Homo sapiens: one gene and its partner. The protein of the gene in region 1 purifies or fractionates together with the protein of each later gene. This does not show direct contact. Each region holds a gene or a part of one and is shown on either strand. Other genes may lie near its edges.

What was found.
Region 2: the proteins of GINS1 (region 1) and MCM8 purify together in Homo sapiens (co-immunoprecipitation; one study listed by IntAct). This does not show direct contact.

What each region holds. Positions count from the first base shown.
Region 1 is NC_000020.11:25,420,876-25,424,703, forward strand, and holds part of GINS1 (DNA replication complex GINS protein PSF1), read left to right. Parts: coding exon of another isoform or gene 1-97; exon of another isoform or gene 98-113; intron 114-3,828. UniProt on the Homo sapiens protein: Required for correct functioning of the GINS complex, a complex that plays an essential role in the initiation of DNA replication, and progression of DNA replication forks.
Region 2 is NC_000020.11:5,981,499-5,985,326, forward strand, and holds part of MCM8 (DNA helicase MCM8), read left to right. Parts: intron 1-1,471; coding exon 1,472-1,667; intron 1,668-3,282; coding exon 3,283-3,502; intron 3,503-3,828. UniProt on the Homo sapiens protein: Component of the MCM8-MCM9 complex, a complex involved in the repair of double-stranded DNA breaks (DBSs) and DNA interstrand cross-links (ICLs) by homologous recombination (HR).

The DNA of each region.
Region 1 (3,828 bases):
GAAGAGATTAATACAGATAAACTCTGTAGTAGACCACAGACATCTCTGCTTGAGCAATTGCATCGTGGCAACTGCATCAGCCATTTTGGACCAGTAACAAAGAATATTTCCAGGTATCCCTGACAGCTTATAGGAGCCTATGAGGTCTGAATGTCATCATAGGTATCTGTATTACCCAAGGATAGTGCTTCAATGGGTGACTGAAGCACATGGGCTTGAGTCTGCCACCTAAATTCAGATCCCTGCCTTGTTAACTCTGAGCCCTTTGGTAAATTATCTAATCTCTCAAAGCTTCAGTCCTTCATGAATAAAAAGAAAATAATAATAGTAGTTACATCATGGGGCAATGAAAAAGAGAAAATAATGCATATTAAAATTTTAGCAAATTCCTGGTATATAGTAAGCACTTTATTACTGGGAGTGATGATTTCAATATTGTTGACTCAGGCTAGCAATAAAAGTAAAAGCAGAGCTAAAATAAGGTTACTAACATGAAACAGATGATCATGTGTTAATGTTTAGAGAAAACACCATTGAAAGAATATGAAAGCACACTGATGATAAGTAAAAATCTTATTATCTGATTTCAAAGTAGTAACATCTTTTGTTTTCAAAGTAGTAACATCCTTTATGTTTTTAAAATAATAACATCTTTTGTTTTCAAAGTAGTAACATCTTTTATGTTTTTAAAATAGTAACATCTTTTGTTTTTTGATTTCCTAAGTTTCTGTTTAGAATCTTTAAGCCACTAACATGAGAGATAGTGAAAATAGGTATTTTTTTCTTTCCTATTAATATTTTTCCATAAGGAAAACTAAAAAATTTGTGACTATATCAGTATGTTCTTTTGTGGAAGTAACGTGCTTATTCTACATTTCCCTTTTATCTGTGAATGAGACTGAATGAGGGTAACACCCTCATTGTCAAAACAGCTTCTGATTTTTCTTCCACTTCATCTTCTCTTTGGGGTCTGTTACACTCTTCTCAGTGGAGACAAAGTAGAAAAGACCACAGTGGAAACACCCATGTTTGACTCATTTGGCAAGATCTCTCTCAGAGAACTTTTCTTCATACTTATCAATACAAAATATCATTTTTTATCCTTTATATTATAAAAAACAATGCAGTTTTTACCACCTTGGCATACATACCTTTTAAATCTTTTAAAATCACTTAATTTAACCATTTGCATTGTGAAATCTAACATAAAAACAGGCACATGCAAACACATCTGAAAAGGTGCAGAAAACGAAGATGTACAGCCCAATGATGTGTCACTGAGGAATTCCCATGTATCCATCACCCTGTTCAAGAAAGAACATTGCTCCGGAACCTTTGTGTCCCTCCTCCCAGTGATCACTACCCTCCTGACTTTTGTGCAGACTAATCACTTCCTTATTTTTAAAAATCTTATTGCTCTGGATGCAGTGGCTCACACCCGCAACCCCAGCACTTTGAGAGGCCAAGGTGGATGGATTGCCTGAGCTCACGAGTTTGAGACCAGCCTGAGCAACAGGGTGAAACCCTATCTCTACCAAAAAAAGAAAAAAAAAAACAAAAAAAAACTTAGCTAAGTGTGGTGGCATGCGCCTGTGGTCCCAGCTACTCAGAAGGCTGAGGTGGGAGGATCACTTGAGCTTTGGAGGTAGAGGTTGTAGTAAGCTGAGATTGCGCCACTGCACTCCAGCCTGGGTGACAGTGAGACCCTGTCTTAAAACAGCAACAAAAAAACTTGCCATTTACCACCTAAGCATGCATTTCTAAACACTATAATTTAGTGTTGCCCATTTTTTGAACTTTATATAGATTCATGCAGTATCCTTTAATGATTGATGACTTTCACTAAATGTAATATTTTTGAGATTCTAATCTGTTGATATATTAGCAAGAGCTCATTCCTTGTTTTTTATTTTGTTTAGACGGAGTTTTTTGCTCTTGTTGCCCAGGCTGGAGTGCTGTGGCGTGATCTTGGCTGACCGCAACCCCCGCCTCCCGGGTTCAAGCGATTCTCTTGCCTCAGCCTCCCAGCTATCTGGGATTACAGGCATGCACCACCACGCCTGGCTAATTTTTTGTATTTTTAGCAGAGATGGGTTTCTCCATGTTGGTCAGGCTGGTCTTGAACTCCCGACCTCAGGTGGTCCACCTGCCCCAGCCTCCCAAAGTGCTGGGATTACAGGTGTGAGCCACCACACCTGGCCGAGCTTATTCCTTTTTAATGCTGAATAGTATTTCTGGTTTTTTTTTTGTTTTTTTTGAGAGACAGTTTGACTCTGTCGCACAGGCTGGAGTGCAGTGGCATAGCTCGGCTCACTGCAACCTCCGCCTCCCTGGTTCAAGCAATCCTCCTGCTTCAGCCTCTGGAGTAGCTGGGACTACAGGTGTGTGCCACCATGCCCGGCTAATTTTTGTATTATTAGTGGAGGTGGGGTTTCACCATGTTCACCAGGCTGGTCTTGAACTCCTGGCCTCAAGAGATATGCCCACCTTGGTCTCCCAAAGCTGGGATTACAGGAGTGAGCCACCGTGCCTGGCCTACCCAGAGGTTATTAAGGTTATTAAGATATTTTTCTTTTCTTTTTTTTTTTTTTTTTTTTTTTTTTTTTTTTTTGAGACGGCATCTCACTCTGTCGCCCAGGCTGGAGTGCAGTGGCTCAATCTTGGCTCACTGCAAGCTCCACCTCCCGGGTTCAAGCCATTCTCCTACCTCAGCCTCCCAAGATATTTTTCTTCTCTCTTTTTTTTTTTTTTTTTCCGAGACGGAGTCTCTCTGTTGCCCCCAGGCTGGAGTGCAGTGGCATGATCTCAGCTCACTGCAAGCTCTACCTCCCGGGTTCATGCCATTCTTCTTCCTCAGCCTCCCGAGTAGCTGGGACTACTGGCGCCCGCCACCACGCCTGGCTAATTTTTTTGTATTTTTAGTAGAGACGGGGTTTCACCATGTTAGCCAGGATGGTCTCAATCTCCTGACCTCATGATCCACCCGCCTCGGCCTCTCAAAGTTCTGGGATTACAGGCGTGAGCCACCGTGCCCGGCCTTTTTTCTATGTAATCTTTTAGGAGCTATATTTTACCTTTTACAAAGAGATCTACAGTATTGGGATTAAGTTTTGTGTATACTACAGGAGGCATGCTTCATTTTGAATATAGATATTGAGATGACCCAGCACCATGTATTGAACAGATCTGCCTCTCCCATCACTGTGTGCATGGTGCCACCTTTGTCATACATTGAGTGTCAGTATTCCTGTGGATTCTGAATGGGAGGACTTTTTCTTCTGTTATGCTAGTCTATCTGTTCTTATACCAATTCCACTGTTGTAATTACTGTAACTATATAGTATAGTTGGAGCAAGTTCCCATCTTGTTCTTTTTTGAGAGCATTTCAACTATTAGCCCTTTGCACTTCCATGTAAATTTTAGACTCAGTTTGTCAGGTTCCATTTTAAAGAAAGTTAAGATTTTGATTGAGATTGAATTGAATCTATAGATTGTTGACGTTATTACAATATTGAATCATCCAATCTGTGAATATGGTATTATTTAGGTCTTTCATTGTTTTCAACTTTTTTTTTAAAATAGCAGATTTACTGAGATATGATTCATACACTGTGAAGTTTACCATCTTAAATTGTACAGTGCAGTGGTTTTTAGTATATTCAGAGTTGTTGTGCATCCAATACCACATTCTTATTTGAGAATATTTTCATCACCCTACAAAGAAGCCCTGTCCCCTTTATAGTTACTCTATATTTTCTTCCCTCCTCCCAGCTCCTGGAAATCCCGAATCTACTTTCTGTCTCTATAGATTTACCTATTACAGGTTTT
Region 2 (3,828 bases), about 19 Mb from region 1:
CCCCTTGCTTCCCCCTCCTAAATCATTACGTTACCAAAAAGTGCAAACTGTAGCTGGAAAGGAAAAAATGGGTCAAAATTACATTGGGAAAAGCGTATTGACAAGAATTCATATATACTGTGTCGGAAGAAATAGGTTTGGACAGAGCAGCCGTTATTATACATGAGCAAGGCAAAGAGACAGCATAGCAGCTGTGAAGAAATAACGTAGGAAGAAAGAAAGACATTTAATATGCCCAGTAAAAGACCTCACTGTAGACAAAATTATAATCTAAGGAACAAATGAAAATTTCCCATGAGTGTTTCATGTTTGATAAGAACATTAATGAAATAGCTCAAAACAAAAAGATAAGGCTATGAGAGACAAATTGATGACTAACAATGTTATTAAACTAATATATAAAATTGACACTGCTGAATGAGAAATTATAAAGAGGAAAGGCTTGAGATAATTGCAGTGAATGCAAAAGAACAAAGCTTAATACAATTAGAGGGGAAGTAACAGAGATAGAGAACAAAGGAAATTCAACATAATTGGTTCCATGAAGTAGAAAACCCAAACATGAAACCAGAAATGGATTCAAGGATAGAAGAAAATCTGTTGAAATAAACTAAAGGCACTGTATGTGCCAGGAATGTCATGTCTATTGCACAAGTTATTGGGGACTCTCTAACATTAGTTTACAATATTTGTCTTCCCTGCTCCCCATACCAGTTAGGTTAGCAGCTGGGGATCAAAAAGACTAATCAGCAGTTATTTTCCATATACTCCTCTGTGCTAGTAAGGCTTACTTAGGTATAGAGTAGATACGGAGGGGTTTAACCACAGCAAAGCCCTTCAGATGTGACCCCCAGATACTAACCTAACTGGTATGGGGAGAAAGGAAGACAAGCATTACGAGGTAATGTTAGAGAATCTCCAATAACTTATGCAATAGACATGACATTCCTGGTACATACAGTGCCTTTAGTTAGTGGTGGTGCATTGTATTATGTTTAAAGAGATTAAGTGATTTCCCTATAAGTGCATACAAGTGTATAGTCAATACCTGGTATAGGTTTTGAAATATACTTATTAAACATAATAAACTTACTATATGTGTATTGAGGTATACTTATTAAATTGTGCATGTGTGTTTGTGTGTGTATGTAACATCACACCCATTTGAATTTAACTCCTTAAGCATTTTGAGAATTACTCTTACCTCCTCTTCGTTTTTGTAATCCTCACAACATAGTGCTGTGCGTATGAAAAATGCTAAAGGAAGAACTATTACACAAAACTTAGTTAAATAAGACAAATGTATTAACTTGCTGCAGAACAAACAGTAATTCTCCATTGTATGACATTTTATAATTTTAACTGCTGAAACAAATGGAAATAATTATTGTGAAACAATTTCTATCCTATAAAATTTGGAACTTGACCAAAGAAAAAATGTTTTTTCTGCTTTATTCTACTTCGATTGTAGGTATTTGTGGAATCGATGAATTTGATAAGATGGGGAATCAACATCAAGCCTTGTTGGAAGCCATGGAGCAGCAAAGTATTAGTCTTGCTAAGGCTGGTGTGGTTTGTAGCCTTCCTGCAAGAACTTCCATTATTGCTGCTGCAAATCCAGTTGGAGGACATTACAATAAAGCCAAAACAGTTTCTGAGAATTTAAAGTAAGTCTCTTCAAATATTTATACCTTTAATGTATTGAATCACTTTAATTCAATAAGAAAAAGAAATAGTTCACAGAACTACAGGGGAAAAACATGGATATTTCACAGAAGTTATAAATGTCCAATAAATGCACAAAAATGTGCTTAAACACTGCAGAGTAAAACAATGAAGTACGAATGAGATCCACCAGATTGGCAAACATTTTAAATATTAATCATTTTTGGCAAAGTAGTGTGGAAATGGTTTCTCAGTGGCTGGGCGGGTGGCTTATGCCTGTAATCCCAGCACTTTGGGAGGCTGAGGCAGGTGGATCACCTGAAGTCAGGAGTTTGAGAACAGCCTGGCCAACATGGCAAAACCCCGTCTTTAGTAAAAATACAAAAATTAGCCAGGCATGATGGCAGCCGCCTGTAATCTCAGCTACTTGGGAGGCTGAGGCAGGAGAATTGCTTGAACCTGGGAGGTGGAGGTTGCAGTGAGCCGAGATTGTGCCACCACACTCCAGCCTGGGTGACAGAGTGAGACGCCATGTCAAAAAAAAAAGAAAAAGAAATTGTTTCTCACATACACAATTTATTATTTTGTGGGACCCCTTGGTGTGTTGATCACAATTCTAAATGCACATTCTGTTTGTTATAGCCACTCTACTTTTAGGACTACTGTTCACAGAAATAGTCATACAAGTGCACAACGATAGGTTTATAGCATGGGTATTGCAGCATTATTGCTGCCAAACATTGGAAACACCTTAAAACTATAATAAGACTGTAGTGATTATGAGAACGAAAGTGGCTTTATATGTACTAATGGGGGAACATGTCTGTGCTGTACTATTAAGTGAGAAGAGCACATTAACAAACTTAAATATGTGGTATGATCCTGCTTTTTTCAAAAACAATGTTTATATCTGTATGTATGCTTTCTCTTCTAATTCATTCTGTACAGCTTGGACAAAATGTGTGGAAAAGGAAAAATATATTTAAGTGATACAAAAGTGAGAAAAAGACAAAAGAGTACCTCCTGAAAAATTAGAGCCTTAAGCCTAGTGGGGGTGGAGTTAATTTCTTGTTGTTTAATAATGTATCAATATAGAAACAGTCTTTGATACATAGTGAAATACACAATGTGTACTTGGAGATTTAGGGTATTTACCACCACCACCAAAAAAATCAACCTACTAGTAGTTTTTCTTTAGTAAAATGACAAAGTGCTATATTAGAAAAATCAGAAAGATCTATTGAACAAAAATCCAGCAGACTTGGATTCTGTTTTTTAATGGTATCATGAACAAAATACTGAACTAGCTAACCTCTGATATGTCATGTAGCAGTATTGCCAATTAGTGATAATAGGACATGAAGAATTCAGTGGGTTTGGGGGTGTGAGAAAGAGCCATGTCCTCAACCTACCCAGGGTAGATACATGTAATTCTTGTGCCCATGTTGCAGTGGTTGGATATATCGAATCCAAGAAGCTATTTGCTTATTTCTTTAACCTAAATCTTGGTTTTTCAAGTTCTGCGTGGAACTTGAGTAGTAAATAAGTGAGTAGACAGTTTTCTAGTTTTTCCTTTTGATTCCAATCATTGTTTCTTCTTTCTTTCATCCTTCATAGAATGGGGAGTGCACTACTATCCAGATTTGATTTGGTCTTTATCCTGTTAGATACTCCAAATGAGCATCATGATCACTTACTCTCTGAACATGTGATTGCAATAAGAGCTGGAAAGCAGAGAACCATTAGCAGTGCCACAGTAGCTCGTATGAATAGTCAAGATTCAAATACTTCCGTACTTGAAGTAGTTTCTGAGAAGCCATTATCAGAAAGACTAAAGGTATAAATGTTTCTTCTCCTTATTCAGTTTGGTTCTGTTTGAATGTCAAAGTTCAGTGTGTGGCTTATTGTAGAGCAGTAGGATACAAACTTTTTTTTTACCAGAACTTTTTAATATTTCCATACTAGAGTTTACGTAAACTTCATCTGAAATAATCCAAGTCGGCCTGGCGTGGTGGCTTATGCCGGTAATCCCAGCACTTTGGGAGGCCGAGGCAGGTGGATCATGAGGTCAAGAGATCGAGACCATCCTGGCCAACATGATGAAACCCCATCTCTACTAAAAATACAAAAATTAGCTGGGCATGGTGGTGCGTGTCTGTAATC